Regions from separate parts of the Homo sapiens genome. Here regions 1 and 3 are each linked to region 2. The links come from fine-mapping of genetic effects on gene expression. A gene starts in region 2. Each other region holds a variant in brackets. All regions are shown on one strand. Distances are between the middles of the regions.

Region 1 (10,922 bases), 54 kb after region 2:
ATGATGTCTATGTTATGATTCTATATGATATTTGAATATGTTCACCCTTTTCTCTTTTAATATTGTTTCAACTACTGATTTACTTTAGCAAACACTTTCTTCATTAAAAGTGCAAAGGTAAACTTAAACCATCCAAATAATCAGCCAAATCAGTCGAATCTACATGAAATATACAACAATCTAAATGCTTAAAATAGATAAGTACAATAGTGGAGGGCGTAATGTGTTACTGGGCTTTTGACATCAAGGACGTCTGTGTTCGAATCCTGACTTTGTCAGTTGTTAGTACCAGTTGTATTGACTTAGATAAATCATTTCACCTTTCCAAGTCTCAGTGTTTTCTTTTATAAAAACTATGGTTGTCAGGAGGATTTTGTGAGATAATTATATATGAAAGAACCTACTAGGATGTATTCTTTAGTAAACATTCAGTATTTGGCTCTCTATTTGGCAACTGAGTGGTGGTTGTGTTCCCCAGGTGTGAGGGTTCCTGGGCTGGGCTGGGGCTACTGTCTTGTAGTTTCAGTAATTTGGTTTCTTGTGTACTATTCATATATATATATATATATATATTTTTTTTTTTTTTTTTTTGGAGACGGAGTCTCACTCTTGTCCCCCAGGCTGGAGTGCAATGGCGCAATCTCGGCTCACTGCAACCTCTGCCTCCCAGCTTCAAGTGATTCTCCTGTCTCAGCCTCCCGAGTAGCTGGGACTACAGGTACCTGCCACCACGCCTGGCTAATTTTTGTATTTTTAGTAGAGACGAGGTTTCACCATGTTGGCCAGGCTGATCTTGAACTCCTGACCTCGGGTGATCCGCCTGCCTCGGCCTCCCAAAGTGCTGGGATTACAGGTGTGAGCCACCATGCCTGGCCCTTATTATATATTTTTATATACTTTAGAAAATTTGATCTGCGGAAAATCTGGTTCTTGTTTTTTGGCCACATTATCAGATCAGTCACTCATCTACTGTAAGTACATTAAAAAGAATACATGGTCACTTTGCCCAGTTAACCAGAGAATGGTGCCATTAAGTTAAAAAATGCATATACATGTATAGGCATGATCCTCATATAGATTAGTTTTGTTAGCTGCACAGTCACAGATCAAATCCTGAGTTATTACCCTTCTTACAGAAGGGTGTGTCGCTTGTTCATGGTGGGGACAAGGTTGTCAGTGAGGATAGCTTGATAGTAATAAACTATTACTACCATTGGAAGAACATTTCAAAATACAATATTATGCATCCTACTTAGGTTATTTTCACTTCATATGGTAATAGTCCATTAATTTACCCTAATAATATTTAGTAGATTTTGACATCTACTAGAACATAAGGTTGAAGTGAAAAGCATGTTTTAGTTTGTGCATTTTAAAACAATTTTCTACGAAAGAAAACCAAAATTACCTTCCATAGCTTTCTTATTTAAATTGGACTTAATATTTCTATTGTTTTTAAGATTCAACTCTTGGAATCTTCTACATTTCTTTGCCTAAGTAATAGGGGATGGTTTATGTTTTTTGCCATTCATAATTTTTCTTAAACCTTCATACCCACATTTAGCCATATGCGCTTTAAGACACACAGTGAAGATGAAATTTAATACACATCAAACTTCTGTGCAGACTTGGTGAGAAACAGATATTTTGCAGCCTGCTTTCACTCTGTGAGTCATTAAGGAGTGGGTTGATAAACTTGCATTGCAACCTTGCTTATAGAAGATTGTGCCTATTGTAAGATACTCCCTATAAAGCCAAAAGATAAAAAAATGCTAAGGGTACTGACAATTGTTTATAAAATACAGTCATAAAGACATCCCGCTCCAGAGAGTTCTCTGATTAAACTTCACAATAACTGTAATTTCTCTGCCTGAATCACTTTGTTAAATTTTGTCTTGGCTTCTGGAGACAGGGTAGGGAGACAGATTAAATTTCAATACCTTATGCTATTCATTGGGCTTGGGAGAGTTTCTTCAGCATAAATGATAATAAAGATAGATTAGTGATTCTGGTTTATCCTCTAATCTTAGCATAGACATTTTCTGTAGATTAGAAGTCATTTCATTTATGAACCAAATAAGGCTTCTGATATAAAAAGAAAAATGAATCTTACTCAGTTCCCTAAGGCTTAGAAAAGATTGCTGGAATTTAGGAGTTGGGTAAATGGTTTTACTTTAGCTACTAATCCAATTGAAAAAACGTGAGACGATTTTCTGAAAAGCTAAAAAGCTCTTATAGTAAATTTGAGAGGATTTTTAAATTATGGAGAACAAGATAGTATTGCCCTTACCTAAAATTCTCCCTCAATATTTTGTTTCCTTTGCTTTGGAAACAGCATCCAAGCAGGGCCACTGAGAAGGGTGTGTGGGGGTGGGTGTTTTATTGACAGTTGTTTGAAGGAAATTATGCACAGGTACCTAAAAAGAGCAACTCAGGCAAGTTTCCCAGCCACTTAGATTTCCTGTTTCTTTAAGTTAAGCATTGCTATTCACATTGTGTTGACTGTAGAAGGATTGATAGTGTCCAGTACAAATAATAATAGTAAAATAGAATTTCTGCTTAGAGTTTGTGGTAAATATCAAAATATCTTAGTGATAAGCACATGTATTCTTTTAAATTTTGTCAGTTGCCCAGTGCTTCCATTCATTCATCACTTGTTTATTTTATTCAACCAGCATTTATTGACCCCCTGCTGGTTCTGGGTTTCCTCTCATACTGTGCTAGATGCCTGGTATGCAAAGATAAATGAGTCATGGTCTCTCCCCTCAAGCAGTCACCAACTACTAAATTCTTGGTCATTTTAGTTGTTTTCTTTTTTCTTAAAAAAATTTTTTTTTTCAACAGGTTTTTGGGTACAAGTGGTGTTTGTTTACATGAATAAGTTCTTTAGTGGTGATTTCCAAGATTTTGGTGCACCTATCATCTGAGCAATGTCACTGTAGCCAATGTGTAGTCTTTTATCCCTCTCCTCCCTCCCAGTCTTTCCCGAGTCCCCAAAGTCCATTATATCATTCTTATGCTTTTGTGTCCTCTTAGCTTAGCTCTCACTTATGAGTGAGAGCATATGATGTTTGGCTTTCCATTCCTGAGTTACTTCACTTACTTACCCTCCAGTTGCATCCAGGTTGCTGCAAATGCCATTATTTCATTCCTTTTTATGTCTGAGTAGTGTTCCATGGTGTGTGTGTGTGTGTGTATACATACACATACATACCACGGTTTCTTTATCCACTCGTTGATTGATGGGCATTTGGGCTGGTTCCATGTTTTTGCAATTGCGAATTGTGCTGCTATAAATATGTGTGCAGGTATCTTTTTCTATAATGACTTCTTTTCCTCTGGGTACATACCCAGGTGTGGGATTGCTGGATCAAATGGTAGTTCTACTTTTAGTTCTTTAAGGAATCTCCACACTGTTTTCCACAGTGGTTGTACTAGTTTACATTCCCACCAACAGAGTAAAAGTGTTCCCTTTTCACCACATCCATGCCAATATCTATTATTGTTTGATTTTTTTGATTACGGTAATTCTTGCAGGAATAAGGTGGTATCACATTGTGGTTTTGATTTGCATTTCCCTCATAATTAGTGATATCGAGCATTTTTTCATTTTTTTTGGCCATTTGTGTATCTTCTTTTGAGAATTGTCTGTTCGTTTCCTTAGCCTACTTTTTAATGGGATTGTTTGTTTTTTTCTTGCTGATTTGTGTGAGTTCCTTGTAGATTCTGGATATTAGTCCTTTGTTGGATGTATAGATTGTGAAGATTTTCTCCCACTCTGTGGGTTGTCTGTTTACTCTGCTAATTATTTCTTTTGCTGTGCAGAAGCTTTTTAGTTCAATTAAGTCCTGTGTATTTATCTTTGTTTTTGTTGCATTTGCTTTTGGGTCCTTAGTCATGAAGTCTTTGCCTAACAAAGCTATTGTCTAGAAAGTTTTCCCAGGGTTATCTTCTAGAATTTTTGTGGTTTTGGATCTTAGATTTAAGTCTTTGATCTATCTTGAGTTGATTTTTGTATAAGGTGAGAGATGAGGAACCAGCTTCATTCTTTTACATGTGATTTGCCATTTAGCACCATTTGTTGAATACAGTGTCCTTTCCCCACTTTATGTTTTTGTTTGCTTTGTTGAAGATCAGTTGACTGTAAGTATTTGGCTTTATTTCTGGGTTTTCTATTCTGTTCTGTTGTTCTATATGCCTATTTTTATACCAGTATCATTGCTGTTTTGGTGACTGTGATCTCATGGTATAGTTTGAAGTTGGGAAATGTAATACCTCCAGATTTGTTCTTTTGCTTAGTCTTGCATTGGCTATGCGAGCTCTTTTTTGGTTTTATTTCTTTTTTTAAAAAAATTATTATTATACTTTAAGTTTTAGGGTACATGTGCACAATGTGCAGGTTAGTTACATACGTATACATGTGACATGCTGGTGCGCTGCACCCATTAACTCGTCATCTAGCATTAGGTATATCTTCCAGTGCTATCCCTCCCCCCTCCCCCCACCCCACAACAGTCCCCAGAGTGTGATGTTCCCCTTCCTGTGTCCACGTGTTCTCATTGTTCAGTTCCCACCTATGAGTGAGAATATGCGGTGTTTGGTTTCTTGTTCTTGCGATGGTTTACTGAGAATGATAATTTCCAACTTCATCCATGTCCCTACAAAGGACGTGAACTCATCATTTTTTATGGCTGCATAGTACTCCATGGTGTATATGTGCTACATTTTCTTAATCCAGTCTATCATTGTTGGACATTTGGGTTGGTTCCAAGTCTTTGCTATTGTGGATAGTGCCGCA[A/G]TAAACATACGTGTGCATGTGTCTTTATAGCAGCATGATTTATAGTCCTTTGGGTATATACCCAGTAATGGGATGGCTGGGTCAAATGGTATTTCTAGTTCTAGATCCCTGAGGAATCGCCACACTGACTTCCACAATGGTTGAACTAGTTTACAGTCCCACCAACAGTGTAAAAGTGTTCCTATTTCTCCACATCCTCTCCAGCACCTGTTGTTTCCTGACTTTTTAATGATCGCCATTCTAACTGGTGTGAGATGATATCTCATTGTGGTTTTGATTTGCATTTCTCTGATGGCCAGTGATGGTGAGCATTTTTTCATTTGTTTCTTGGCTGCATAAATGTCTTCTATTATTTCAGGAGATCTACTAGATGCTGGAGTTACAGCAGAAGAAAGACAGGAAGAGTTTCTTCCCTTATGGAGTTATTCTCTAGCCTAGGAATAAAAGTCAACATGAATAAAATGGAGAAGCAATCAATGCTGAGCTGAATTTTTCAAATAGAGTAGAGCTATTAATCATATTAGGTCAGAGATGTAATTCTTTGGTGAGAGACTAATAAATGAAATAAAATTATAGGTCTTTTTGAGACTAATTGAAATTATGGAACAACCGATAGAATAAAACTACATTCTAAAATTGTAGTTTCCAGATTCAGACTTAGAACATTCCTTAATTAACTTAGCATTTGATTTATAGAGAACTTTAATATTTCAATAGTATTATCTATCAAATAGTTAATGAACTATTTTAACTTTCTTTGAGAAAGTTAAAAGGCAGATATCTCCAGTTTTAACATTCGGCTCTGACTCAAATTTTGGTTAAGTTTTGCTGTCACATCTAGACTTTATTACATAAACAAAGATTTAAATTAATTACAGTTACTTCAATGGGATATATAATTCAGATTTATTCAACTTTCCCCATTCTTTAATTACTACTGGTCAGAGATTGTTCTTGTGAGAGATACACTATTTTAGCATGACTCAGAAACCTTAGTAACAAAGTGAACATTTTAAAAGCATACAAAATACAAGCCCGAATTCGATTCAGAAGGCATAAAATTAAGCTATTGGATGCTGTAGTTTCTCAGTGCTGGTGTGACTCTCTGCCCCTGCCTCATGATAGAACTAGGAACCATAACAGTTCACTGAGTCATGCTAGGCCATGGTATCAGCGCGTGCTTGGCAGACCCTCAGTAAACCTTTGTGTGAGTGGGGGCATTTGTTGCACAGTGATGATCTCAACATTACTTTAATAATCTATACCACATATTTATGCTTGGTATTGGTTTGTTTTAAAATGCAATTTTTAATTTAATTTTATTATTATTATTTTTTGAGATGGAGTCTCGCTCTGACCCCCAGGCTGGAGTGCAATGACGTGATGTCGGCTCACTGCAACCTCTACCTCTTGGGTTCTAGGATTCTCCTGCCTCAGTCTCCTGAGTAGCTAGGATTACAGGTGTCCACCACCATGTCCGACTAATTGTTGTATTTTTAGTAGAGGCAGGGTTTTGCCATGTTGGCCAGGCTGGTCTTGAACTCCAAAATCAGCTATTCTTTAAAAATTATGCATTTGAAACAATGAAGATTTAGCCATTCTAAACACTTCTTTAGAAACTTTATGCCTGCCCTTCCTTAATCGATTACATTTAGATGGAACTTTTGTATAAAGTGTTCTCCTACACATGATCTCATTTGATCTTCTTGACAGTTCTGTGACTGATATTGGACACTTATTATTATCCCCATTTTATCAATGAGTTAATTGCTATTTACCTGCGATTATATAGCTAATTAATGGAAGGCATTGGCTGTACAATGGGATTTGTGACTCCCACTTTACAGCTGAGCTCAATTCTTTCTACCATTGACCTGCAACGATGTTTTAAATAAAATGACTACTAAGGTTAGATGTTTTAAATAAAATGACTATTAAGGTTAGATGTTTTAAATAAAATGACTACTAAGGTTAGACTGCTAAGGTTAGAGGTTAGACTGCTAGTTTCTGCCAATGGATCATTTTTGCCAATAATAGGATAATTTTTTTTCACAATAAGAATCCTAAAAAAAAATTTCATCCTAGCCTCAGCACTTCTCTACATTAATTCTAGGAAACACTTGTACTTAGATGGAGCTTCCTAAGGACCAGCAATCTTTTTAACAAAAGATGAGCCCTTCAAAAGCTGCCTGATAAGTGAGTGCAAGAATTATAACCATTGATACACACTGTAGTCATCAAAAAGTCAGATCACACAGTCTATTCTGCATAGGACTCCATTCATTGCCTTTTAAATGCAATAAACTTCCCCTCCCTTTTTCACACCATATCCTGCCTTTTTCTAACCTATATTAATGATTCAATACATATGGTGAATAAATTAAGTGATAGAGTTTTTTTAATTAGCAAGATTTTTATATAGCAAGATATAACCTGAGTTATACCTGTATTTCACTTTGATCTAAGAGAAGCAAATCATACTAGCTCTTATATAAAAACTCTGTAATGGTAGCATAACTATTCAGTAATGTTACTAAATGAAAAAGAACTGCACAATGCATTTTGTTATGCATATTTTCTTTAGGAATTCCTTCACTCTTGGAATAAACTTAACTCTTTTCCATAAATGAGACCCCCACCCCCCGCAGTCCAAAATTTGTCAAGCTGAATGATCACTAAAATCACCTAAAGAACATTTTTAATGTTATTTTTCTCAAGCTTTTTATAACTAAAATTTTCTTCCCATATACAAAAAGCTGAAAGACTAGTACAATGAACATTCATACAAGTACCTCCTAAATTCAATAGCTGTTAATATTTTAACAAATTTGGTTTCTCTCTCTGCCTTTCTCTCCCTCTGTGTGTATATACATAGACCTATCTGTATAAGTCTTGGCTTGATTTGAGTTTAGGTAAAACATTATTGATAAAAATACTTCTTCATTGATGTGTGTACTTCATATTGCATTACATCAGGTGGCAAATGACGTCAGGTTGTTTCATCGCTGGTAATTGTATTTAATCATTTGTTCATGGTGGTAAGTAGCAGATCTCTTTTTTTTTGTAAATAACAAACGTGTCTGGATGGTAGTTTGGTACTATGTGAATATCCTGTTGCTAACATTTCACCTAAAGGAAACCATCCTTTTGTCCCTACCAGAATCTATTGTTCCATCAGACTCTGTTGTTACATCTACATTGATTAGCTGGCCTTCTTCTGTAAAGGTGAGCATTTCTTTATCAACTGTGGGTCGACTACAGTTTCTTCTAAAAAGTTAGGGTAATTTGTAATCCTTCCCCTTTACCACGTTTCGAGTAGATCTCACCATATCGAATTTTTCCCATTATTTTTTCAGGGCTACTTTTCTTTCTGACACAACTAAATTTGCTCACCTTCCAATTTCCTGCCTCAGACCCCAAATCAACCATTTCTTCAAGGAACCTCAGTTCTTTTTAGTGAAGGATGGTATGTATAAATCAAGCTCTAAGTGTTAGGCATACCTATTGTACTTGTATCTTTGCTTCTTGACCTTTTCAGTGGACAGTGCAAGGAAATATGTGTATTTCTCTTAATCATGAGTTCATGTTAGTATTTGTAATTTAAATTTAACATTAATTTTAAAAATTATATTTGTATATCACACTTAAAACTTGCAATATATTTATTTGATTCATATATACATATATAGTTTTGAATTACAATAAAATTCTGAACGAAGTTTAAGATTTCTTTGCAATTCTTTCTGTCCCTGGGGAGTTTTTAAAAATGCAAATATTGGCCGGGCGCGGTGGCTCACGCCTGTAATCCCAGCACTTTGGGAGGCCGAGGCGGGCGGATCACGAGGTCAGGAGATCCAGACCATCCTGGCTAACACGGTGAAACCCCGTCTCTACTAAAAATTAAAAAAAAAATTAGCCAGGCGTGGTGGCGCGCGCCTGTAGTCCCAGCTACTCGGGAGGCTGAGGCAGGAGAATGGTGTGAACCCGGGAGGCGGAGCTTGCAGTGAGCCGAAATTGTGCCACTGCACTCTAGCCTGGACGACAGAGCGAGACTCTGTCTCAAAAAATAATAATAATAATAATAATAATAATAATAATTATAATTATATCTGTGCCCACTTCCCCAAGATCTTCTGAATTAGAATCCTGGAGATAGAATTTTGTCAGATTGTAGGTTTGTATTTTTAAAATAACCAATCCATGATCTCCTGCCCTAGTCAGCCTCAGGACTGCTGGAATATGTGAAATCTGTTTTACTTTGGGTCATATCTCTCAATCCTCCCTCCCCTCTTTTTTCCTTCTTAGACATTTTTATAATTTTGTTATAATGTAATTACAGAATTACTGGGCACAGGGAGAAATGTTTAAGGAAATGGGAAAAGGGTTGACTGGGAAGTAAAAAGAAAAATCAAGAATTTGCAGGAAGATGGTATAGGGAGCTTAGAAGCTACTGGCATGAACAGTAACTTTTCATAGGCTATCATTATCCTCAATATCTTCCTTACAGTTCTTCAGAAGATTTTAAACAGTAATCCTGTTTTTTAAAACAGGATTTAAAACATTATTTAATAATGGCCTAGCATTTATTGCATATTTAGCATTGCCAGGCACTCAAAGTATTTTATGTAGTGCCTCATTTAATCCTTGCAGGAACCTTATTGTGCTCATATATTAATATTCCAATTTTGTAAATGAGGAAACTGACTTAAATATATGTACTCTGCTTAATGAGCTACTTTCTAAGGAAAACACAAGTTTTATCTTTGCCACAGGTTGGGTTACCCAGGAAGCGCACTCTGAGATTGAGATTTGGATGCCTTATGTTGTTAGAGATACCTGACAGATCTAACAGAATTGATCTCTGGGGATCAATACCTTTGGAAGGGAGGAGATGCAACCACAACCACTCAGTGAAGCTGAGCTATGAAGTGGTTCTCTACCAAGTCCTGAACCAACCCCACAGAGAGCTCTGGAGCTAGGGTAGTTGTTCAAAGTCCTTCCAATTTGGAGCAAGAGGACTGGCCTTTTTACCTCTGCATTGACCCATCGCTGTGTGCAGACTGCCCCTGGAAGGAGGCTTGATCTTGGATGGGGACCCTCTTCTGCTGGCACTCTCTGCAGCCAGGGGAATAAGTTTTTTAATCCTGAAAGGGCTTCTGGGGTAGAACTGATCGCTGATCACAGTGTCCACCACATCTCCAGTAAATTTGCTATAATTTCTTCAAAACAAATTTTCTTGATAAAGACTTTTTCCCTATTGGCTATTCTTTTCTTATTTTTCCCATTGAAGAATATATATATTTAGAGGCATTTGCTCTTATGTCATTCACCATAAACTCAAAGTCTTTTTTAACCCAGTTGTACCAGCTTTTAACTCCGTGCCTTATATTACATCGGATAAACCAAAATATTTTTATGCAGTAACTTGCTGTTTTTTTTAAACATCAGGCGTTTAGCATCTCCAGTCCTCAACATTTTACTCTGCTTGTCTTTACAGCCATTCTTGAGAAGGTTCTCAAAGAGGTCAATGCAAGAGAAAGTCTTCATATTAATCCATGCTTAGGATCTCCTCAATTTCAACCCCTTCTTTGTTAAAGCGTCCTCTTTGACACTCAGCATACATCCTTCATCCCGTGATTTTCTGGTGGAGAAAATTACTCACTCTCAGCTTGCTGGCTGACTGTCCCAACTGTCTGTCTTCTGTGTGAACTTGGAGGCAGAAGGGCTGTGTGTGCTATCACTCCCTGGTGTAGAGAAACACGTCCACCTCCTCCTGCCTCTGGTGTACCTGGTCCCTTGTATATGGGATTATGTGCTCTCAGCATAAGAAATGCCTGATTTTTCCATTTAAATGAGGTGAGGCTATGTTACAAATGCACTATTTGTTCTCTTCTTCCTTTGGGAGTATTTCTGGTCTTCATTTTTATTGGAAGACCTCGAAATACTTTAAATATGTTTGTTCTATAGTTTTTAAAAAATAAATCATTTCTGAGTATGTTGAAACTCAGTACCCAGCAACATAATTTTCTTTGGTTAATAATTTTTCTAAACTGGAAATGAAATGCCTTAAAATTATGCATTTGTCAAATATGCTTTAATATGTGGTTAAAAGCCAATCTAATAA
Region 2 (10,922 bases):
GGTGGTGGCGCATGCCTATAGTCCCAGCTACTCGGGAGGCTGAGGCAGGAGAATCGCTTGAACCCGGGAGGTAGAGGTTGCAGTGAGCTGAGATGGGGCCACTGCACTCCAGCCTGGCAACAGAGCAAGACTACGTCTAAAAAAAAAAAAGAAAAGAAAAGAAAAGAAAAGAAAAGAAAAGAAACTTGGTCTATATGCTCTGAGGGAGAACTTACAGGGTGCTTTGAGAGCATGAAGGAGGGTCTTCTAACCTAGCAGTGGGATCGGGGACTGAAGACAATTAGAGGTTTCTGAAAGAACTGATGTATAAATTGAAATCTGAAGGATTATCAGGGAGTTCATGGGAGAGGGGTTGGTGTAAGAACCACAGAGTGTTCTAAGCGAGAGAATAACACACACAAGGTCTAGAAGTGAGAGGGAAGTTAGCCTATTTCAGAAATGGAGAGAAAATCAACATGGCTATAGTTTAAGTTGCAAAAGAGGGGATAACTGACCAGCCATGGGGCTGCAGAGGTAAGCAGAGGCAAGCTCACAAAGGCTTTGTAATAAATGGAGGAATTTGGGCTTAAATATAAGAGCAATGGGAAGCTGTTGAAGAGGTTTTAAACAAGAGTGGTAAGAGACAAAATCCGTTTCAATCACCTCTTAAATAAATGGTTAGATCAGAAGAGCACTTCTGAATTATGGGAGTCCAAAAACAGTACCAAATTATGAAGAGGTAGTGTTCTACGATGTGAAATCTGAGGGCTTTTACATAAATATTTTTGCTTTCCAAACACTGTAGGAGACCCTTAACCTCATTAAATGGAAGCCCTTGACAACAGTCCTTTATTCCAGATGAGCACAACTCAGGAATTATCCATCTCAAGCTTATGATAGAAATAGTACCCCATGTCAGAAAAAAAGTACAAAGGCAGGATTTTACCTCATAGTATTCCACATGAAAGCACAAATTAGTCTCAATCACACATCGGCATCATAGGAAAATCTCAGAATTTCAGTATTGGAAAGAATGTTAAAGATCATTTGGTCCAACACCTTCATTTTACAGATGAAGGCAGTATACAGATTATTTCTTATACAAGACTGTGGATTCTGCCTTGGGCTCTCTCTCCCTCAGATCTTTCATGAAGGGGGGAAGTCAGCTTGGCATGTCATGAGTAGCCCTGTGGAGAAGCCCAGGTGACAAGGAACTGAAGCCTCCCACCGCCTGCCAGTGAGGAACTGAGGCCTGCCTGCTGGCCATGTGGGTGAACTTGACAGCAAATTCTCCAGGCCCAGTTGGTTATGATAGTGGTCCCAGCTGATAGTTTGGTAAGAACCTCATGAGAGACCCTGAGCCAGACCACCTTGTTAAGCCACTCTTAGATTCCTGACTTCAGGAACTGTGTGAAGTAAATGTTTGTTGTTTGAAAGTGCTAAACTTTGGAGTCATTTGTTAAGCAGTAAGAGGTAACTAATGAACAGTACACAAAATTAATAAATTCTTAACAAACTTACACTATGCTTCCCTTGATATCTAAATAGTAGTTATTTTCTAAACAATAAAATGTATCTTCCTTTAAAGATACTACCAATTGTGCTCTTCTTCTTTGAAAAGAGGTGATTAAATGGCTTATAGAATAGGTGATAGGATATTTAGTCATTTAGAGGTCACTGACTCTAATTTAACCTGAGTTCTTGGCAACCACACATAGATAATACTGAAATTTGTTTGCAAATAATTCCCTATGGCTACATATTCCCATTTTAATGTAGCTGTTTTTTTTAAATCTCCGTACATACAAAAATATGAACTTAAATTAAAATTACCCTTTCTTCTTAGTTCTAAGCAGCCTTAGTAGGATGCTGAGTAAGGGGGAAACAACAGCCTATCAATTGATGATGATGACCATATGTAAAATAATCACTTTTCTAATTTAATAAAACCTCCAAAGTTTTGTCCTTGGAAGAAAAACCTCCCAGTGAGGAGGAATAGCAATTGAAGTAAACCTGGCCCCTCTTCTAAGTTTTGTCTGCCTTTTATATTTTCAATCCCATTATTCATTCAGCATTCCATCAAGAAATACTCACTGAGCCCTTTCCACATACCAGACACGGATAACAATAACGAACTAGATAGACAAGGCTCCACCTTCATACACATTTTTATCTGGGTATAGGAAAAAGAAATTAAGCAATTACAATATAGTGGTAATCATTAGGGAAGAAAAGTAGAGGGTGCAGTGGAAGTACCTAGCAGGATACCTACCCTAGTACATTGGTGGGAAGAGATATAGGGGTGTGGAGTGGGACATGTGAGAGAGTCTAGAAAAAGCTTTTTTGTAACTGACATCTAAGCGTAATGTTAAGATGTCAGAAGGTATTTCAGGCAAAAAGAACTCCCCGTACAAAGGCCTGAAGGTAAGTGAGTTACATTTAGAAACTTAGAAGTTCAGCTTGGCTGCAGCATAGCATTGGGGTAGTGTAGCCCCAAAATGGATACAATTCCCTCTGCTGGGCTTCCCTGTAACAGAGTTGACATGGTGGAGAAATTAAAAAATAACAAAGCTTTAGGCTCTGACCTCTTGCACATTATGCTGCCTGAAAACATTTATGTTCCAGATGCAGAAGGCTAATCAGTCTGGCAAGAATTCTGAGGTTGGAAAAACCTGCTTTGAATCCCAGCTTGAGACCAGTAATACCCACAACAGGTTGTGTAGAGGTTAGGTGAAATAATAAATGTGAAGCATCTTACACACACTAGGTGCTCAAATAATTCTCTCCCTTCAGTTACCTTGCTTCTGAGCCCCCAGCTGGACTCTGAGCTGAGGACACCATGTCACCATCCACCACACATGACCCCATGACTTGGCAGAGGACGATGCTTTTCTTGGCCATCTCTATGTCCATCTCATTCAGTTCTAGTCTCTACCCTCTTCTTTAGAGGAACTGCAGCATTCATAAAACAAGAATTATAGCCACACGCACCTGAGACTTGTTCCATTACACTAATTGTACTTTATATTTGTATATGTACTTGATCTCAATTATTCCTTTTGAGAACATCATAAGGTTGAGTATTGTAATCACTATTTGGCAGATAAAAGCCCTAGGTTCAGAGAGGTACGTGATTTATCTTGACTGAAGCTTTGAATGTAGCTCCTCATTTTCTAAACGAGTTCTGTCAACCCTACAAAGGCTGCCTCCCAGCAAATACTGCAATGGGCATATGTTTTAAGGTATATTTGCACTTTTTTTAAACTTTTAAGTTCAGGGGTACATGTGCAGGTTTGGTACATAGGTAAACTTGTGTTATGGGGGTTTGTACAGATTATTTCATCACCCAGGTATTAAGCCTAGTACCCACATTAGTTATTTTTCCTGATCCTCTCCCTCCTCCCACCCTCCACCCTCCAATAGGCCCCAGTGTGTGTTGTTCCCCTCTATGTGTCCATGTGTTCTCATCATTTAGCTCCCACTTATAAGTGAGAACATGCAATATTTCGTTTTCTGTTCCTGTGTTAGTTTACTTGCAGTTTCTTTTAAAAGTTATTAAGACTCAGAGAAACATAAACTTTTACAACTATATACCTATTCATCAATATACAACTGTATAACTATATACTCTTTCACACATATTTTAAGTTCTCTGTGTAAAACTAAAGTTGGGGGGTGGTAGTGGTGGCAGGATGTTCTCAGAATACTAGGGCCTTCAAAGGACCATCCTCAATACTTTGATGATAGGTATCACTTTCCATTTGCATACTTGCCCAGCTATGCTCATAACAGTAAAAATAAAGCTTCCTACCTTCTTAAGAATAAAAAACTGTCTCCCCTGTGAAAATAACACAAGTGAAAGACTTAATTATTCAGGTGGACTTCAGCTGCTGATTTCAAATGGAATTATTCTCTTATGATCACAGGATGCCTTGTAAGTTACCTGTTTCAAGCCCAGTCTCTGCCTAGGGAACTGTCTCCTATGAAAAGGAGTCCGGGTGGACCATGGTGGCTCATGCCTGTAATACCAGCATCTTGGGAGGCCAAAAAGGGAGGATCGCTGGAGGCCAGGAGTTTGAGACCAGCCTTGACAACAGGACCAGATAATAGACCCCGTCTCTACAAAAAATAAAAAAAAAATTAGCTGGGCATGATGACTCACACATGTGGTCCTAGCTACTCGGGAGGTTGAGGTGGGAAGATCACTTGAGCCCAGGAGTTCCAGGCTGCAGTGAGCTATGGATGTGCCACTGCACTCCAGCCTGGGTGACAGAGCAAGACCTCAACTCAAAAAAAAAATAAATAAAAAAGAAAAGGAGTCCACCTCACTTCTGAACAGTTCAAGTTGAGTCCATAAATGAGCCTATTTCTGTCTTCCAAAGATATCCATATAAGACTTTTCCCAACCACCCCCCGCAACCTTGCTTCCTTTCAGTGTTTCTCCAAAGGTGGTGCCCAGATTACCTGGATCAAAATCACCAGGGTACTGATTAACAGGAGATTCCTGGGTCCCAACGCTGACCTGAATCATCACCAAGAAATGGTGCATTCGCTTTTCATATCACATTACCCAGCAGATTCATACTTCGTGAATTACACACTCTAGATCTCTGTCACACAAAAAAAATGGTCTTAGGCAAAATCTCTCATCTTCTACTTAAAACAACTGGTTTTAACCTAAGGGGCTGATATAAATGCTAAGTCAAGCAGTGATTTGTGTTTAACACTTGACAGTCCCTCTTCCAGGTACTCTATATAGTGGACTTTTATACAATATGATGTACAGTCCTTCAGCCAACCAATAATACACCTAACTACAATCCATTCTACATTTCCGGAACCATGCTGTTCATGAGGATATCACTTCAGATATTTTGTGGAAATTTTGAAATTATGGCATCTACAGAACTCCCTGATATACTAGCTATTGTAAGCCAAGCCAAAAAGCACATGAAGGTAGTTTGGTATAATTCTTTATCTATCTTGATAATTGAAATTGTTTCACTGTAAAACTTTACATAACTGAGCTTTGTTTTAAAGCAAAAAACTTGCAGATGTGAGACAGTACGAGAAAAAAGAATCAGCTGTTACCATCTTAAAACTTAGGATAGCCTAGGTGTGGTGGCTCACAGCTGTAATCCTAGCACTTTGGGAGTACGAGGCAGATTGCCTGAGCTCAGGAGTTCGAGACCAGCCTGGGCAACACCGTGAAACCTCGTCTCTACTAAAATACAAAAAAAAAAAAAATTAGCTGGGCGTGGCGGTGTGCACTTGTAGTCCCAGCTACGGGGGAGGCTGAGGCAGGAGAATTGCTTGAACCCGAGAGGTGGAGGTTGAGGTGAGCCAAGATCGCACCACTGCACTCTACTCCAGCCTGGGTGACAGAGTGAGAGACTCCGTCTCAAAAAAAAAAAAAAAAAAAAAAAAAAAAAAAAAAAAAAAAGAAAAGAAAAAAAACCCCAAAAAACTTAGGATAAAATCTTAAAACGTTTTGTTCGACTTAAATTTAAATTAGCAGTTTAGGATATAGTACACTGATAATGTAATTACATACATTCTGCTATAAAGGCATAGACATCTTTATTGGGAGATATGGGCAGAAAAATTATTTCCTCAGGGTGGGGCATTTGGCTAAACACTTGCCAATATCCTTTACTGTGTAATTTAGGTAACACAGGCAGAAAAGGCGTTTGAAAAGCAGAAATCAAGTGGCAAATATCAGATCTGAGGGACGCAATGAGGGTGGAGTTGAAATCCGTGGTCCTTGGATTTGAAACTTACCAGCCCGTGAACAAGGTTGGTATTGCTTTTGGCATAAGACGACAGCCTTTCTTTTCATTAGCTCAGGAGGAATACTGGCTTTCCAAGTGAGCTCCTCCAATCCAGTGATATTTGCACATCTCACCTGGGCCTTTCGGTTACAAATTCACCACCTTAAGGAGCCGTGTGAAAAAGCAAGAACAATCAATAAGAAGGAAAAAAAAAAACCCTTCAGCTATAAATCAGCCACGTGGAGCTGCTGCAGCAGCAGCGGTAGTCCCACTTCCTGGTTGGCTTCCTGAAAGCCTCTCGACAAGGGGCTCAGGGAAGTGGGTCTAAGGGAGAGGTGCAGACGAGAGCGACTCCAGGTCCAACGGAGGGGGCGGCGGGCCACGGGATCCCGGAGGGCACAGGCGTTAAGGACGGAGTTATTGTCCATAATTACAATAAAAGTTTGGGGATCTGAAAGCTTTAAGGAGCTGAGCTGCAGGGCAAAGGCTAAGAACCGGACTCGGGAAAAGTGCAAGTTAGTTACAAGGTAGCAGGGACTGTGAAGGGGGCTCGCGTGGAGAGCAGGGGACTGCGGATCTGGAAGGGGGCAGGTAGAGAGGAAGGCAGCCTGGCAGAGCGAGGCACACGGGTCAGTCGGAGCTCTGCGGTGGCCGCCAGAGGGGAGGGGGCCACGGGGAGGAGCGGAGGGAAGAGCCCGGGGAAAGGTGTAGCCGAGGGGAGTTCCGGATCTGGAGCTGGAAAGGGCAGGCAGCGGAGAGGGCGGCAGCCGTAGCGGTAGGGGTGGGGGAAAGAGGGGGAGGAGAGCCGGAGGAGGGGGAAGGAGGGAGGGGAGAGCGGTGGCGGCGGCTGCGCCGGGCTGTGAGTCTCTCGCCGCCGGAGGAAGATGAGGCTGAAGATTGGGTTCATCTTACGCAGTTTGCTGGTGGTGGGAAGCTTCCTGGGGCTAGTGGTCCTCTGGTCTTCCCTGACCCCGCGGCCGGACGACCCAAGCCCGCTGAGCAGGATGAGGGTGAGTGACCCGCCCGGCCCCCTCCGGCGGCAGCGACCGGCAACTTGTTTTGTTTGCCCGCGTGTGGAGGGAGCAGGGGCGGCGGGGTCGCGGCACGGCGTGGGCACCGCAGCTCCGCAGGTGGTGCTGGCGCAGCGCGGGCCGAGGGGGTGCCGAGCCCCGCGCACTCCGACCTCCCTGGCCGCCGCCGGCCCGCCCCCTCGCCGCCCCTTCCTCCGCTCTTCCCCGCCCCGGGCTCCGTCGCCGACACCCGCGCTGCCGCGGCAGCGGCTCGGGCGGCCGCTCTCCGCGCCGGGACTGCGGGCGGAGCGGGCGGAGAGCCGGGTCCGGGGGGCTGCGGCCGCCCGGCGTCCCGCTCTGGGGGGCCGGGACCGCAGCGCTCACGGCCCGGGGACGCGGGGTTGGTCCAGGCTGCGGCCTGTGGCGCGTGCAGGCCTGAAGGAGGCGAGATGCCGATGCCGCCACCGCTGGTCCGGTGGACCAGGCCCCTTGGTCCAGCCTCCCCTCCCGCAGCCGCCCGTCTGGGGGTGTTCGCAGCCCCGGGCTCCCCCGGCCCGCCCGCCGGGGAGTGGGAGGGCGATGGCGCCCCGCCTCCGGCTCTTACGGAGAGCGCGCCTCCCCCTCAACTCCGGCGGCGGGGAGCCGGGGTGCGATGCGCGGCCGAGGCCTCGCCCGGACCGCCGGTCCCCCTCGCGTCCCTGGGCGAGGGAGGGGCGGTTGGCCGGAGATGGCGGAGGGGCGTCCCCGCCCCGCCTGCCCGCCGCCCCCAGCCCTCAGCGCCTGGGGAAGCCCCTGCTGTGGCAGTGCTCGGGCGCTATCCGGGGGAAGAGGAGCAGTTCCTCTTCCTTGGCTGCGGCAGGGCTGCTTGGGCCGGAAAACTAACTTGTGTCGGCGCCCGGCCGCCCCGCGCCGGCTGCCGGCTAGCTCAGGCCGACGCCGAGGGGAGCGGCGGCGCGGAGCTCGCGGCGGCTCCGCTGGGACGCATTTGTCTGCCGCCCAGGGCGCGAGTGTTAGCGCTGACATTCCTTGGATTTGGAGGGTTTAGTCAGGCGCCTCGGAACATTAGTTACCCGGAGCCGCGCCGCGCGGGGAAGGGACCGCGGGCACTGCGGCTTCCCTGACCCGGCAGCGGGCGGCGCGCACCGGCCTCGCCCCCGACCCTGACCTGCTTCCCCCCGGATGAACCGTTGCACCACCTGCTTCCTCCTCCCCGCTGGGACAGCCAACTGGGCCGGCTGCCAGTGGGGGTAGGAGAGGGTATGAGGGGCTCACGACCGCCGAGGCGGCGGGGCTGCAGGAGGAGTCGAGTCGCTCTCTCTGTTGTAAAGTGCTTTTTGCAAGTGTGATGAGCATCGCTTCTATGTCATGTTTATTTAACTTTCCTTCTGGAAAGTTAGCATCAAGAAGTTGGGCAAAAAGGCTTGTGGCGTCCTTTCAAGAGTAAGAATCCTAGGAGGAGATCCCATTATCAGCTCTTCGCCTATATCATGAGATTAGATGTAATCTGGAAGTTTTAGTATTTGAAGTCTCTACAGCAGTGGAATCCCTTTGTAATATCTGGGATAGATTCCCATCTAAGTCATCTAAATTGATGGTAATAAAAAGTATCAGTTTTCCTTTTCAGTACATTTGCGGTTTTAAGCTTCTCAGCTCATGGAGTGATGGTGATCTTTTTATAATTTTGCTCTCAATATGACTTATTGACAAAGGATAACTGAATATTGCAATTGAGGATATTTGTTTTAAGTCATCAAATGGCTTTTTACATGTAGCTAGAAATGTTTAACCCCCTATTTTCTGGTAGAGAAACTGACGAAAAACTGACAAAACTAGCTAGGTTCAGAATGTCCCGCCCTTCTGATGATCTTTTAAAGAGGTGGCGGAACATCAGCATCACTTGCCAACTCGTGGAATATTTTATTAGTGCAAACAAAGGATGGGCCATAATGCCCATTTCAGTACTATATGGTGATGATAAAGAAGGTGATGATATCTTGATTTTTTGTTTGTTTCAGTGTACTTGATAAAGTTTCTCAGTGGATCCAGTGTAATTTCTGTCATTTGTCAAAAACAAAAGGTAGATTTTAAAGACTTAACATAATTAACATTAAGAGGAATGCTTAGGTATCAGAAGAGCAAGAAAGACCCTTTTATTGGCTTCCCAGGTAAATAGTAATACAAGCAATTTAAAGTGTAGCTTATAAATAATAAGAGCATAAATAAGGGATTATTGCCTTCCTTTAATAAAGACTAACCTAGGAGCTTTTAAGGTACAGTGCTAGAAGGACAAATCCTGTAGGGAGGATTCTGACTCCTGAGTTTCTCCTCCCCCTTGTGGTTCTTTTACTTCGATGACTATTGCATATATTCCACCCATGGTGAGATCTCTGCTTCTCTTTAATGCTGATCTACACATGGACTTTTTTGGATCCCTTTAAATAGCCTGAACGATCCAGTTTACCAGGTATGGGTTCTGCCTCTACTCCAGCAAGCTTGTACCTGTGGCTCCATTCACCCTGTGCCACTTTTTGTCTTGAACTATGAATATGTCATACACTAAATTCTGTTACAGCCTTGACAACTTGGGATGGTCCTTTCTCATCTGCACTATTTCCTTGTTTTAGGTCTGTCCACCTGTGGAGTCAAGACAAAAGAAACATGTTTCTTATTTCCTTCCCATCTCTGGGCCTCTTGCCCTTTCTCTGAAGTGAATGATGTGAAAAATGACCTTACATTTCCGATCATATTCTGTTGTGTGATTTTAAATATTGATTTATTTGAACATTTTTGAGTGCCAATTATATACCAGGCATGGTACTAGTTGTTAAGGAAATACTCCTTGTCCTTAATCTCATGGATCTTGTAAAAACCACACAGCAATCAAACCTCGATAAATATATAAATAAAAATTGTGCTACTGCTTTCATAGTGAAAACCATAGGGGGCAAGAAAATGGAGGAATTTGGTCATAAAAGCCTTACTTGAAGAAATGACTATTAGCAGTAGCAAATCCACACAGGTCTGAAGCAACTCGATTCTTACCTCCTGTGGGAAAGAATTTATTGGAGGGGCATAAGGCAGAGTGAGAGACCGAGGCAAATTTTTGAGCAGGAGTGAGAGTATTAAAAAGCTTTAGAGCAGGAACGGAAGGAAGTACACTTTGAAGAAGGCCATGTGGGCTACTTGAGAAATCCAAGTACCTCGTCTGACCCTGGACTTGGGGTTTTATACATTGGCATGATTCCAGGGTTTGCGTTTCTTCTCCCGTGATTCTTCCCTTGGGGTGGGCTGTCTGCATGCGCAGTGGCCTGCCAGCAGCGGGGAGGGGCTGCCTGCAGTGTGTTTACTGAAGTTTTACTCATGCTCACTTGAGGCATTTTTCCCTTACAATTTGAGCCTTCCTAGAGGAAGGGCATATACTAGTTAAAAGCTGCCATTTTGCCTATTAGTGCACATGCTGGAGCCCACTTGCCCAACTCCTGAGATCTTAGTGGGAACCTGCTGATAACCAGCTTTAGGTGTTTTCTATCTAATGGGAGACTGCCTTTCCATGGTGTTGGCGCGACCAATTATTATTTCAGAGAGACAGTTTAACAACGGCCTGACCATCACCTGATGGCCGCCTGACATTCCTGGTGGTGGGGGGCCTTTCCTGCCCTGCTCATGTCTGCCTAGCTGCCTACTCTGACTTTTGAGGCGAAATCTGAACATTTCAAGAAAAGTAGTTAATCTGGAAGTGGGTGGCAGCATTCTTGAGAAGGAGCATTTGGGCAAAGGTCCTGAGGCAGGAGGTAGCATGAGTGAAATAGTGAGAAACTAGGAGATAAATATTGTTGGAACGTGGAGAATGACAAGTAGAATGATGCCACACAGGAAAGCATGGGTCTCGTAGTCCATGCTAAGGAGGAGATCTTAAGTGCGGTGAGAAGCCGTTGAAAGATTTTAAGTAGGGAAGAGTGGATTTGTGTTTTGAAAAGATCACTCTGGCTGCCTACAGAAAGTATGTATTTGTCTATAGAACAGGTAGCAGGAGTCCTGGTGGGGGTCATCATTATTCAGGTGGGACATAATCCTTGCTTAGATTGGCAGGGCGGTGGTAGAGATAGAAAAAAATAAATTGATTCAAGAGCTCCTAAAGATGCAAAGGCATCAGGATTTGGCT
Region 3 (10,922 bases), 140 kb after region 2:
ATAACGTAGTTAGGCATGCTGAACTAGTCTTGGGTTCTTAAATGCTTTTTCATTTTCTGTAAATGTTTCAGAACTACATGTACTGTGCCTCTAATAGATTACATAGATGGGAATGATTATTCCATTGAACCACAGCAAGGTGGGGATGAAGATGGTTTTGCCAGAGGGGCCTGGGACTGGAGTTTACTATGGAAACGTATTCCTCTAAGCCACAAGGAAAAGGCCAAAAGAAAACATAAAACTGAACCTTATCGGTAAAGACTATTACTTTATTTTCTTATGTTGAATGTTTATCTAAGTTCTTTTTTTTTTCTTCCCCATGAACTCGTATAAATGTGTGGGTCCATACATACGCTTCCATTTGATCTTTGCTGCCATCAACACAATACAGAACCATTTGCACTGTGCCGCTTATAGATGTCATAAATGGCAACACATATGAAATTATACCCCAAGGGGGTGGTGATGAAGATGGGTATGCCCGAGGAGCATGGGATTGGAGTATGCTCTGGAAACGGGTGCCTCTGACCCCTCAAGAGAAGAGACTGAGAAAGACAAAAACTGAACCGTATCGGTAATCACTAAATCACTTACATATTTTTCTTTTCTCCAGTTGCTGCTAACCTATTAACCTCTTGCCAAGCTAAAGATTCGTTATTAAAACTGTAGATGTTGTCTCAGATTCTGAAAGAACATCTTTCCTTACACTGTTTCAGAGCTTTCAATCTGCTCCATTTGCTCCATTGTAATTGCTTTTACCCTAAATGTGATGTCCACTACTGAGACGTACACACTTTCATTGGGGAAAGAAAAATAATGTAACATGGCATTTGTTCCACGTACAAGTGAAAAAAAGATAAAATCTTAGTTATCCTGTCCTACTGGATTAGACATCAAATTTTATTCTTTTGATGACAGTGTCATTCTATAAATTTAAAATACATAAATTACTTTAATCCAACCAAGACTTTTATTTCCACGTTCATGCCGTGGGTATAATGTTAACAATGAAGGGCACTAGCAAGAGATTTCTGGGTTTTTCTCCCCTTTTGCTGTTATGTTAACTCTCAAATACTAATTTTGTACTAGTTAAATCTGATGAATCACAATACATGACTTTAAAAAATGTTACATAGAATCCTTTATTGCTTCATTCTCAGAAAAGTGATTGATTAAAAGAAAACTCTATTCAAAAATCAGCTTTTGTCCCTTCTTGTGGTTCTTTCAGTAGAACAACTTATGCTACTCTCTTCTTTTGATCTTGTAATTAGAACATTTTACTGTCTCTGTAAAAAGTGACCCCAAATGAAATGTTTGCTCAAGTGTTAGTATAGCCTTCTCCTGAATGTGTCTAATCTTATTTTTCTGATCCTATGGTTCTGCTTTTGGTCTCTCTCTCCCTGTTACACTGCTGGTGATGTTAGAACTCTGTTTTGGGAAGGTGCTTCCAATGTTATGGAAACGCTGTGGGATTTGGGCATGTCATGATATCAAGATACTGAATGGCAAACATAAAGAAGTTATAGCACTTAATTAATCATAGTAGCTTAATTGGACATTTACCAAATTTTTTTTGGTAAATTTCTTATTCAGAATAGTCCAGGAATCAACTGCTTACGTGCTTAACTTAACAAATAACTGTGGGAGAAAAAAAATAAAGGGTGCTGAGCAAATTTATATTTCTGTTAATTCCATAGGCCAGTAAAGAAAATTTTTAAAGTGACCTAGAAAAATTAAAGGGAGGTTATCTGTTGATTAACTCACTGGTGACCATGTTAAGATGCATTTTCAAGTATATACTGAGATGAATGGGAACATATTTGAAGAAAAATAAACCCAGCTGCCGGGCAAGGTGGCTCACACCTGTAATCCCAGCACTTTGGGAGGCCGAGGCAGGCGGATCACCAGAGGTCAGGAGTTCGAGATCAACCTTGCTAACATGGTGAAACCCCATTTCTACTAAATATACAAAATTAGCTGGGCGTGGTGGTGTGTGCCTGTAATCCCAGCTACTTGGGAGGCTGAGGCAGGAGAATCGCTTGAACCTGGGAGGTGGAGGTTACAGTGAGTCAGGATCACGCCATTGCACTCCAGCCTGGGCAACAGAGTAAGACTTGGTCTCAAAAACAAAAAAAAAAAGACACAGCTATAACGGAATAATCTTAAATGACAGTTAAATAAAGGTGACATGAAAATATCACCTAAAATGTAATAGTGTTGTTACTGTGTTAGGCAGCATATTTTAAGAAGAAAAAGCATGAGAGAACAACTTTTTTCTGATGCTATTTTCTTCTAGTATTGAAAATATTTCTTGATTCATTATCCACTCAACAAACGTTTATTGAATGCTTACTGTATGCCAAGCACTGTTTTCTGGGGATACATTTTTAAAGATATGTTTCCTCATTGAATTTAAAATACAGTGAATCAGACAGAAATTAAACAGATAACTGCATAAATAACCCTAAAATTAGCCTGGTGTGGTGGCACGTGCCTGTAGTCCCAGCAACTCAGGAGACTGAGGCAGAGGGATTGCTTGAGCCCAGGAGTTCAAGGCTTCAGTGAACAATGATTGTGCCACTGTACTGCAGCCTGGGCAACAGAGTGAGACCCTGTCTCACAAAACAAACAAAACTCTGGAACAGCAGCTGTGATAAGTAGTATGAAGAAAAATCACAGAGTACATGAGTTTATGGAAAGATGAACCTAATCCAGCTTGGGAGATCAGGAAAGGCCCTTCTGACAAAGTGTCATTTAGGCTGAGACCTGAAGGATGAGGGACCAATTCTGTGGAAAAGGAGAAGGAACATTTCAGGATCGTGAATAACATGAATGAAGGCCTTAAGACAGAAAGGAGGCTGGCACGTTCCCGGTGGGAGCAGAGCCGTGAAGGACTCAACGGGAAGAGAGTCCATGGTGAGCCCAGAGAGCCGGGAGAGGCTGGTATCATGCAGGCGCATGTGGAGGAGTCTGCTCTGGCCCCTGTGTGATTAGCCTTGAGCAGGGGGCAGAAGACAATAAAGGACACAAGCTCGGGAGATATTGGAAAGTCCAAGCAGTGTTGGCCTGGTCTAGGCTGGTGGCAGTGAAGTTGGAAATAAGTCAGCAGATTCAAGATGTATTTTCAAGGCTGGGTGCAGTGGCTCATGCCTATAATCCTAGCACTTAGGGAGGCCTAGGCAGGTGGAACTTTTGAGCCCAGGAGTTCTAGACCAGTCTGAGCAACATGGCGAAACCCCATCTCTACAAAATACATAAAAAGGTAGCTGGATGTGTTGGTGTGCGCTTGTAGTCCCAGCTACTCAGGAGGCTGAGGTGGGAGGACTGCTTGAGCCCAGAAGGTCAAGACTGCAGTGAGCCGCAATCATGCCACTGTACTCCAGGCTGGGCCATAGAGTGAGACTATGTCTCAAAAAAAAAAGATTTTTTTTTCAAGGTAGAATCAATGGAACCTTGAAATAGGTTCCATTGAACCTATTTGAGTAGATTGAATATTATGTATGATGATGAAGTTACCCTAATAATACTGAGTACCCTAAAATTTAAGAATCATGATGGATTAGTAATTAATTGTTCAGGGGAGGGGAGCAGGGAGCAAGATAAATTCTGCTGTAATTTCTCCCAATGGTGGGAGTGACTTGTCCCTAAGAAGCTACCAAATCTTTTTTCTCTTGGACCTAAAAAGTGTCCAATTTAAGATCCATTCAAGAAGCCCCACAGATACACAGGTCACCCTTTTGCATTCCTACCTCCTGGCACAGTAAATATCTATATCTAATTCTCCTGTGTCATTTCTGTGCTACATTTGCAAACTCTGAATGAACTGTGGTTGTTCTACAATGATTTACACTGTTATTTGGCGAGCCCCTGAGCTATAAAATTAAAAAATGACAGACTACTTCCATGGTGTATGGTTTTGTTCACCCAAGAATGACTCATAAATCAATGCAGGAGCAGTTAGCAGACCACGGCTGTATGGCTCAGTGTTTTTAAGAGTGAAAGAGAAAATTCTATTTTAACTAAAACTAAGGCTTAATTTTTAAATCCACAGAGGTACCAAGGCGCCCTCTAATGGTGAACTCAAACAATGCTCTATTTTGTAATGAGCTACAGTTTCAGTTAGAAATTGTGGTAAATTCGTTAGGGAATTATGAACAGATTTTTTTCTTTTTTTGTAAAGGCTTTATAATTTCTTAATGTTTGGCCATCAGTTTTGTCTCTTCTATGCATTTTCAGGCTGTATTCTACAAGGCTTCTTGCCTATTGGTGAAGGGTTATTGGGGGTTTGTCTGTAATGGTTATTGCAGTGTTTCTTTTTCTTAGGTCCCCAGCCATGGCTGGGGGATTATTTGCCATTGAACGAGAGTTCTTCTTTGAATTGGGTCTCTATGATCCAGGTCTCCAGATTTGGGGTGGTGAAAACTTTGAGATCTCATACAAGGTAACATTTTATTTCAACAGATGGAATTCTCCAAGTCGTTACTAACTTCTGTGGCTTTCAGATAAAGCTAGTTTTTTGTGGGGGAAAAAAGCCCACAATTATATCATGCATTTCTCCAAATTGTATAGAATGATTTAATGAAAATGGATGCCTTTGAGGAAAAAATAAGGCAAAATGCAAGCTCCAAACTTACCATATATTTACAGGGCTCAGCTCAAAATTGTGGCTAGCAAGCTTTAGAAATGAAAATATCTACCCCCACACCCCAACTTTCTATATATTGGAGCTTTTTATTATAGAAGCCCTTGGAAGAATCTGCATGCGTTAGGGCCACAATTGACCACCCACTGACACAGTCACCCTTTACCACTGTAGGACATGATTCAAGACAGAAGCAGAGCCCCACAATGACTGTATCCTCAGGCTGACTTTGGCGCTGTCTTCCTGCAGCATCCACCCTGTTGTTGAAGCAGTCTGGGAGCAATACTATCTTCCATGCTCCAGCCCCCACCTCAACCCCTATTCCTACCCCCATTTTCCAAAAGAAAGAGAGAGAGAACTATATCAGAGTGTGAGTTAAACAGGTATTCATTACCTCTTGTCTTAAATGTCCTGTGCGTAGCACTGTGAGGGATAGAAGAGGAGTAAACCAGTTGTTGCTCTCAAGGAACTTGATAAGAAGATATTAGAATTATACTTAAATTCATAATACAAGAAGGCAGAATGGCATTCAGTTGGTGTGCTTAAAAAACCGTCGGCCAGGCGCTCATGCCTATAAACCCATCACTTTGGGAGGCCAACATGGGCGGATCATGAGGTCAAGAGATCGAGACCATCCTAGCCAACATGGTGAAACCCCATCTCTACTAAAATACAAAAAATTAGCCGGGTGTGGTGGTACACACCTGTAGTCCCAGATACTCGGGAGGCTGAGGCAGGGGAATTGCTTGAATCTGGGAGGCGGAGATTGTAGTGAGCCGAGATCGCACCACTGCACTCCAGCCTGGGGGACAGAGC[G/A]AGACTCCGTCTCAAAAAAAAAAAAAGAAAGAGCGAGCGTTATGCTAGATGCAGAATTTGCGGCAGAAGTAGGAAGATGGGTATGATGTTAGTAAGCACAGATAAGGGATGGGAGGGGGACTTCTAAGCAAGTAGCATGGGGAAAAGTACAAAGAAGAGAACACAAGGAACATTCAGAGAACAGCAAGGAGCAAACTTTGGCAGAATCAAGCAACATGAATAAGGAAGACATCTAAGAAGATAAAATGGGAAGGTGTATTAGGGCCATATTGAAGAGAGCCTTTAAAGCTGAGTTAAGAGATTTTTATTTAATTTGATAAGCAGTGGAGAACGATCAAAGATATTAAGCAAGGGAATAACATGACCCAAAGCTGCCCTTCACCTATAATAATCTCTTGCTATAAATAAGGATAGTTGAGTAGAGAGAAGCCGAAGGTGAAGAAGCCAGTTAGGAGTTTATTATAATAATCACCCAAGTAGGAAATATATTAGCAATGGAAATGATTAATGAGTTAGGAATAAAGAATCCACATGACTTTGCAAGGTTATATTGGGAGAAAGTTGCTAGGGGCTATGAGTACACAGTAAGAGGCCCCTTAGTAGCAGTTTATTATTAATACTGTATTCCCTGTTGCCTTCTTGGTTGTTACATGAGCTTTTAAAAGCAAATTATTTTAGGATTTGTTTAGTTTAAGAATTCTGTGTGGACACTGTATATAATTTAGATTTTAGATTTACACTTACAAGATAAATTTTCAGTTATGGTTTATGTTTGTATTTGAAACAACTTTCACAACGTGTTTTTCCTTCATAGATATGGCAGTGTGGTGGCAAATTATTATTTGTTCCTTGTTCTCGTGTTGGACATATCTACCGTCTTGAGGGCTGGCAAGGAAATCCTCCGCCCATTTATGTTGGGTCTTCTCCAACTCTGAAGGTGAGTTTTTTGGATAAAAGGGGAGGACAGGGAACTAACATTTATGTACCACATGCTATAGTAGTTACTTAACAATTGTCAGCTTATTGAGTGGGCTCTTCAGCAGTCATGTTGATTCTCACCTTTAACTTAGCTAGACTTATTCACGAAATATCTTATTGTTCTTTAAGATTATTCAGCTGAAGCAGGAGGATTCCTTGAGCCCAGGAGTTCAAGGCTGCAGTGAGCTATGATTGCACCACTGCACTCCCCGCTGGATGACAGAACGAGACCCCATCTCTTAAAAAAAAAAAAGATTGCACCCTATTTTTTTAATTGACAAGTAAATATTGTATGTATCTTGTACAATATGATGTTTTGATATATGTATACATTGTGGGGATGGCTAAATCTGGCTATTTGGACATGTATTACGTCACCTACTTGTTTTTGTGCTGAGAACACTTAAAATTTGTTCTCAGCAATTTTCATATATGTAATATATTATAAATTGTAGTCACCATGTTGTATAATAGATCTCTTAAAACTATTGTTCCTAACAGAAGTTTTGTGTCCTTTGACCAAAATCAGCCCACTCCCCCCAATCCTCACCTTCTGGTAACCACCATTTTACTATCTGTTTACTTGTTTACACTCCACATGTAAGTAATATCATGCAGTGTTTGTCTTTCTGTGCCTGGCTTATTTCATTTAACATAATATTCTCCATGTTGTTGCAAGTGACAGGATTTTTTTATTATTTAAGGGTGCATAGTATTAATACCATCATGTATATATACCATATTTTCTTTACCCATTCATCTGTTGATGGACACTTAGCTTGATTCCATATCTTGACTATCGTGAATACTGCTGCAATGAACAGGAGTGTAGATACCTCTTCGATATACAGATTTTATGTCCTTTGGATATATACCTAGTAATGAGATTGCTAGATCAGATGATAGTTCTATTTTTAATATTCTGAGGAACCTCTGTACTGTTTTCCCATAATGGCTGCACCATTTTGCATTCCCACCAACAGGTGGGAAGGGTATCTTGTGGTTTAATTTGCATTTCTCTGATAATTAATGATGTTGAGCATTTCTTCATATAACTGTTGGCTAGTTGTATGTCTTCTTTTGAGAAATATCTATTCAGGTCCTTTGCCCAATTTAATCAGGTTGTTTCCTTACTATTGATTTGTTTGAGTTCCTTCTATGTTACGGATATTAGCCCTTACCAGATGTATGGTTTGCAGATGTAGCCTCCCATTCCATAGATTGTCTACTTTGTTAATTGTTTCCTTTGCTTACAGAAGCTTCTTAGTTTGATATAATTCCATTAGTCTATTTTTATTTTTGTTGCCTGTTCTTTTGGGGTTGTTACATCCAAAACCAATATCATGGAATTTTTTCTTTTAGAAGTGTTACAGTTTTAGGACTTCACGTAAGTTTTTAATCCATTTTGAGTTGATTTTTATATATGGTGTGAGATGAAGGTCTAGTTTCATTCTTTTGCATATGGATATCTAGTTTTCCATTTATTGAAGAGACTGTGTTTTCCCTCATGTGTTCTCAGCATCTACCTTGAAAATCAATTGACCATAAATGCGTGGATTATTTCTGGCCTCTCTGTTCTGTTCTTTTGGTCTATGTGTCTGTTTTTATGTGAGTACCATACTGTTTTGATTACTATAGCTTAGTAGTAGATTTTGAAATCAGGTAGTGTGATGCCTCCAGCTTCGTTCTTTTTGCTCAAGATTGCTTTAGCTATTCAGGGTTTTTTGTGGATCCATATGAATTTTAGGATGGATTTTTTTATTTCTGGGAAAAATGTCCTTGGAATTTAGATAGAGATTATATTGAATCTGTAGTTTGCTTTTATAATATGGATATTTTAATAATATTAGTTCTTTGAATCCATGATCACAGGGTATCTTTCCATTTATTTTGTGTATTCTTCAATTTATTTCATCAGTGTTTTATAGTTTTCAGCATGTAGATTTTTTCACCTCCTAAATATTTTATTGTTTTGCTTAGCTATTGTAAATCGGATTGTTTTCTTAGTTTGTTTTACAGATAGACCACCGTTAGCATATAGAAACACTACTGATTTTTCTATGTTGATTTTCCTGCAACTTTATTAGATTTGTTTATTAGTTCTAACAGCTTTTTAATAGAGTCTCTTTAGGGTTTTGAATATATAAGATTATGTCATCTGCAGAGACAGTTTACTTCTTTTCTGATTTGGATGTCTTTTCTTTCTCTTGTCTAGTTGCTCTGGCTAAAACTTCCAGTAGTATGTTGAATAGAAGTGGGGAGAGTGGGCATCCTTGTCTTGTTCTTAATTGTAGAGGAAGAGCTTTCAACTTTTCATCATTGAGTATAATGTTTGCTGTGGACTTGTCATGTATGGCCTTTATTGTGTTGAGGTACAATCCTCATGTAATTTGTTGAAGCTTTTTACATTGAATTTTGTCAAATGCCTTTTTCACATCTATTGAGATGATTATATGGTTTTTGTCCTTCATTCTGTTAATGTGGAGTATCACATTTACTGATTTGTGTATGTTGAATCATCCTTGCATCCCAGGGATAAAGCCCACTTGGTCATTGTAAATGTTATTTCAATTATTTCTCTGTGTTTGATTGAAGGTAACTGAGCTTCTGTAAAACAATTATTTAGAATTATTTATCCAGGTCTACTACTGGGAGATTATTGTGATCTTCTAGTGGTATTATGTCCTCTTCATTTTTCAGTTTCTTATTGACTTACATTAATGCCTGTGCATTTTGTGGACCAGTCACCTCTTGCGGACTTTACAGGCTGGTTTCAGCTTCCTCTATGGGGGAAGGAAGGTGTGAGGGTACTTGCTTGGTGGGATATAGCAGTTCTGGGACTACTGAGGATACCAGGTATATATTCCCTGTGCAGATCAGCCCACCAAGGTCAGTGTTGGCAAAGATTCTAGTGCTCCTCAGTGGCTAATGCTGTAGATATCTATAGTGGCAGTGAGGCATGTTGGGGTCTTTGGGTATGGCTGCCAAGGTCATCCTGATTTTTCTCTCATTGCAGAAGTTGAATGCCCCTTGGCACTGGTTCTGACTCATAGGCTCACTTGCAGCGGCAGTGGCCCTTGTAGAGTGGCTGGGGAGCTGAGGACTGAAGCACAAGCATGAGTGGAGAGACTATGGCTACAGGATCTTGGACAGTTTAAAAACCCCAGGACTTAGGGCACAGATATTTCGCTACTGTATTGATAACAGAATGCGAGGTACCAGATGTTTGTGAGACAGCTGAAGTAGCCAAGAATGGGAGCACAGATGTGCTCAGAGTTAATCCAGCTCTAGGGACAGAGTGGTGCCTAGGTCTCTATGGCAGCTGAGCTGGTGCTTGGGACATAGGTACCTCTGCTGCCATGTTGGTAGCAGTATGTGAGGCCCAGATGCTTGTGAAGTAGCTTTTAGAGCCAAGGAAAGGAGCAGAAGCATGCGTAGAGTTAGAGCAGCTCCTGAGTTGGGGTGGGTTCTAGCTCTCTGTTGCAGCTGATCCAGGGCCTGGAGATGGGGCATGCACAATAAAGGCGTGGCTCTGAGGCCTGGAGCATGAACGAACTATAGCAATGGTTCTAGTGTCGGGGCAGGCCCAGTGCAGCCACAGAGCCTGGGGCTGCAATGTGGACACTAGCAGAACAACTGTGGCTTCAGGATCAGGGCTCACTGGGCCATGGGAGAATTGGCAGAGCTTTGCCCAAAGTAATTCAAGAGTAGCTGCTGCTTGGATGGTGGTGAATGTTCAGATGCATCTCCCTCTCTGGGGTTCCCCAGCAGAAGGGCTGTCGTTTACCTCAGTGGCAAGTGATGCCAGTGTCCTCTAGGGAGCAGGCCTCTGGAAACTATGGTAGTTCCTGCTGCATGGCCGATACCAATAGCATCTGCCTTTCTTCTTTGTTCCTAGCTATCTCCTTGTGCCTCAGGTATGTAGACCTCACAGGTGATCCTGTCCTATGTAGATATTCTTCGTTTCTTTTCCTCCATTGTGTTGCTGCAGATTCTTCAATGGGCCCTGGAGCTCTCTCTGGGCTATTTGGGTTTGTGAATAGGTGTCTGTATTTGTTTTTTAGTTGTGGGGGAATAAAGGCTGGTGTCTCCTACTTTGCCATCTTGGTGACCTCACCTCCCATTATATCCCATTCTGATTAAGATTCCTATATTGAATGTTCTCCATGAATACATTTCAAATAAACTCAAAAAAGTCTGACACTGTGTAGGGAAATAGTTGAAGGGAAAAATACTAGCTTCTGTTATTCACACATGAGTAAAATATGGTTTGGTTTTTTTTTTAATTTAGATAATCATGTTAGGAGTTTGCATAATAAGCAAAATCGAATTTTTGAACAGTGCTTACAAAAGATTAATATCTCTTGTCCCTCAAAGATTGAAAAGTTAATGTGAATATCCTTTGTCCTGTTGTATTCTGCCTCCATATTCTCTATCTCTGTCACATAAAATAGAGGAAAATTGGCCAGGCACAGTGGCTCACACC

Alleles and levels. Positions count from the first base shown, and alleles are read on the strand shown. Sizes are in standard deviations (SD) of each study's normalised expression. Not every link is listed here.
For the expression in tibial artery of the gene that starts at base 6,610 in region 2, allele A in region 1 goes with a higher level than allele G (moderate effect, 0.67 SD a copy in GTEx).

The links. PIP is the estimated chance that this variant, and not a neighbour inherited with it, causes the effect.
Region 1: its variant is fine-mapped to the expression of GALNT7 in tibial artery (GTEx, PIP 0.99).
Region 3: its variant is fine-mapped to the expression of GALNT7 in blood mononuclear cells (TOPMed, PIP 0.95).

The regions. Positions count from the first base shown.
Region 1 is chr4:173,216,156-173,227,077 of GRCh38, forward strand. The region is part of intron 1 of GALNT7 (polypeptide N-acetylgalactosaminyltransferase 7); the gene reads left to right. Among named protein-coding and RNA genes, the nearest start is that of MIR548T, 47 kb to the right of the region's middle. RefSeq lists enhancers at 9,999-10,515, 10,516-10,922. The variant A/G (reference allele first, on the strand shown) is at 4,799.
Region 2 is chr4:173,162,202-173,173,123 of GRCh38, forward strand. It overlaps GALNT7 (polypeptide N-acetylgalactosaminyltransferase 7), which reads left to right and starts at 6,610. Exons shown (of 12, transcript NM_017423.3): 1 at 6,610-6,760. The coding sequence starts at 6,635. It overlaps GALNT7-DT (GALNT7 divergent transcript), which reads right to left and starts at 7,451. Exons shown (of 7, transcript NR_134242.1): 1 at 6,663-7,451; 2 at 5,761-5,912; 3 at 4,444-4,589; 4 at 3,923-4,098; 5 at 2,777-2,931; 6 at 2,092-2,152. RefSeq lists enhancers at 3,721-3,800, 5,879-5,978 and silencers at 6,289-6,338, 6,409-6,528, 6,759-7,988.
Region 3 is chr4:173,297,724-173,308,645 of GRCh38, forward strand. GALNT7 (polypeptide N-acetylgalactosaminyltransferase 7) reads left to right here. Exons shown (of 12, transcript NM_017423.3): 6 at 392-574; 7 at 4,324-4,441; 8 at 6,273-6,395. Among named protein-coding and RNA genes, the nearest start is that of HMGB2, 31 kb to the right of the region's middle. RefSeq lists enhancers at 8,957-9,739, 9,740-10,521. The variant G/A (reference allele first, on the strand shown) is at 5,459.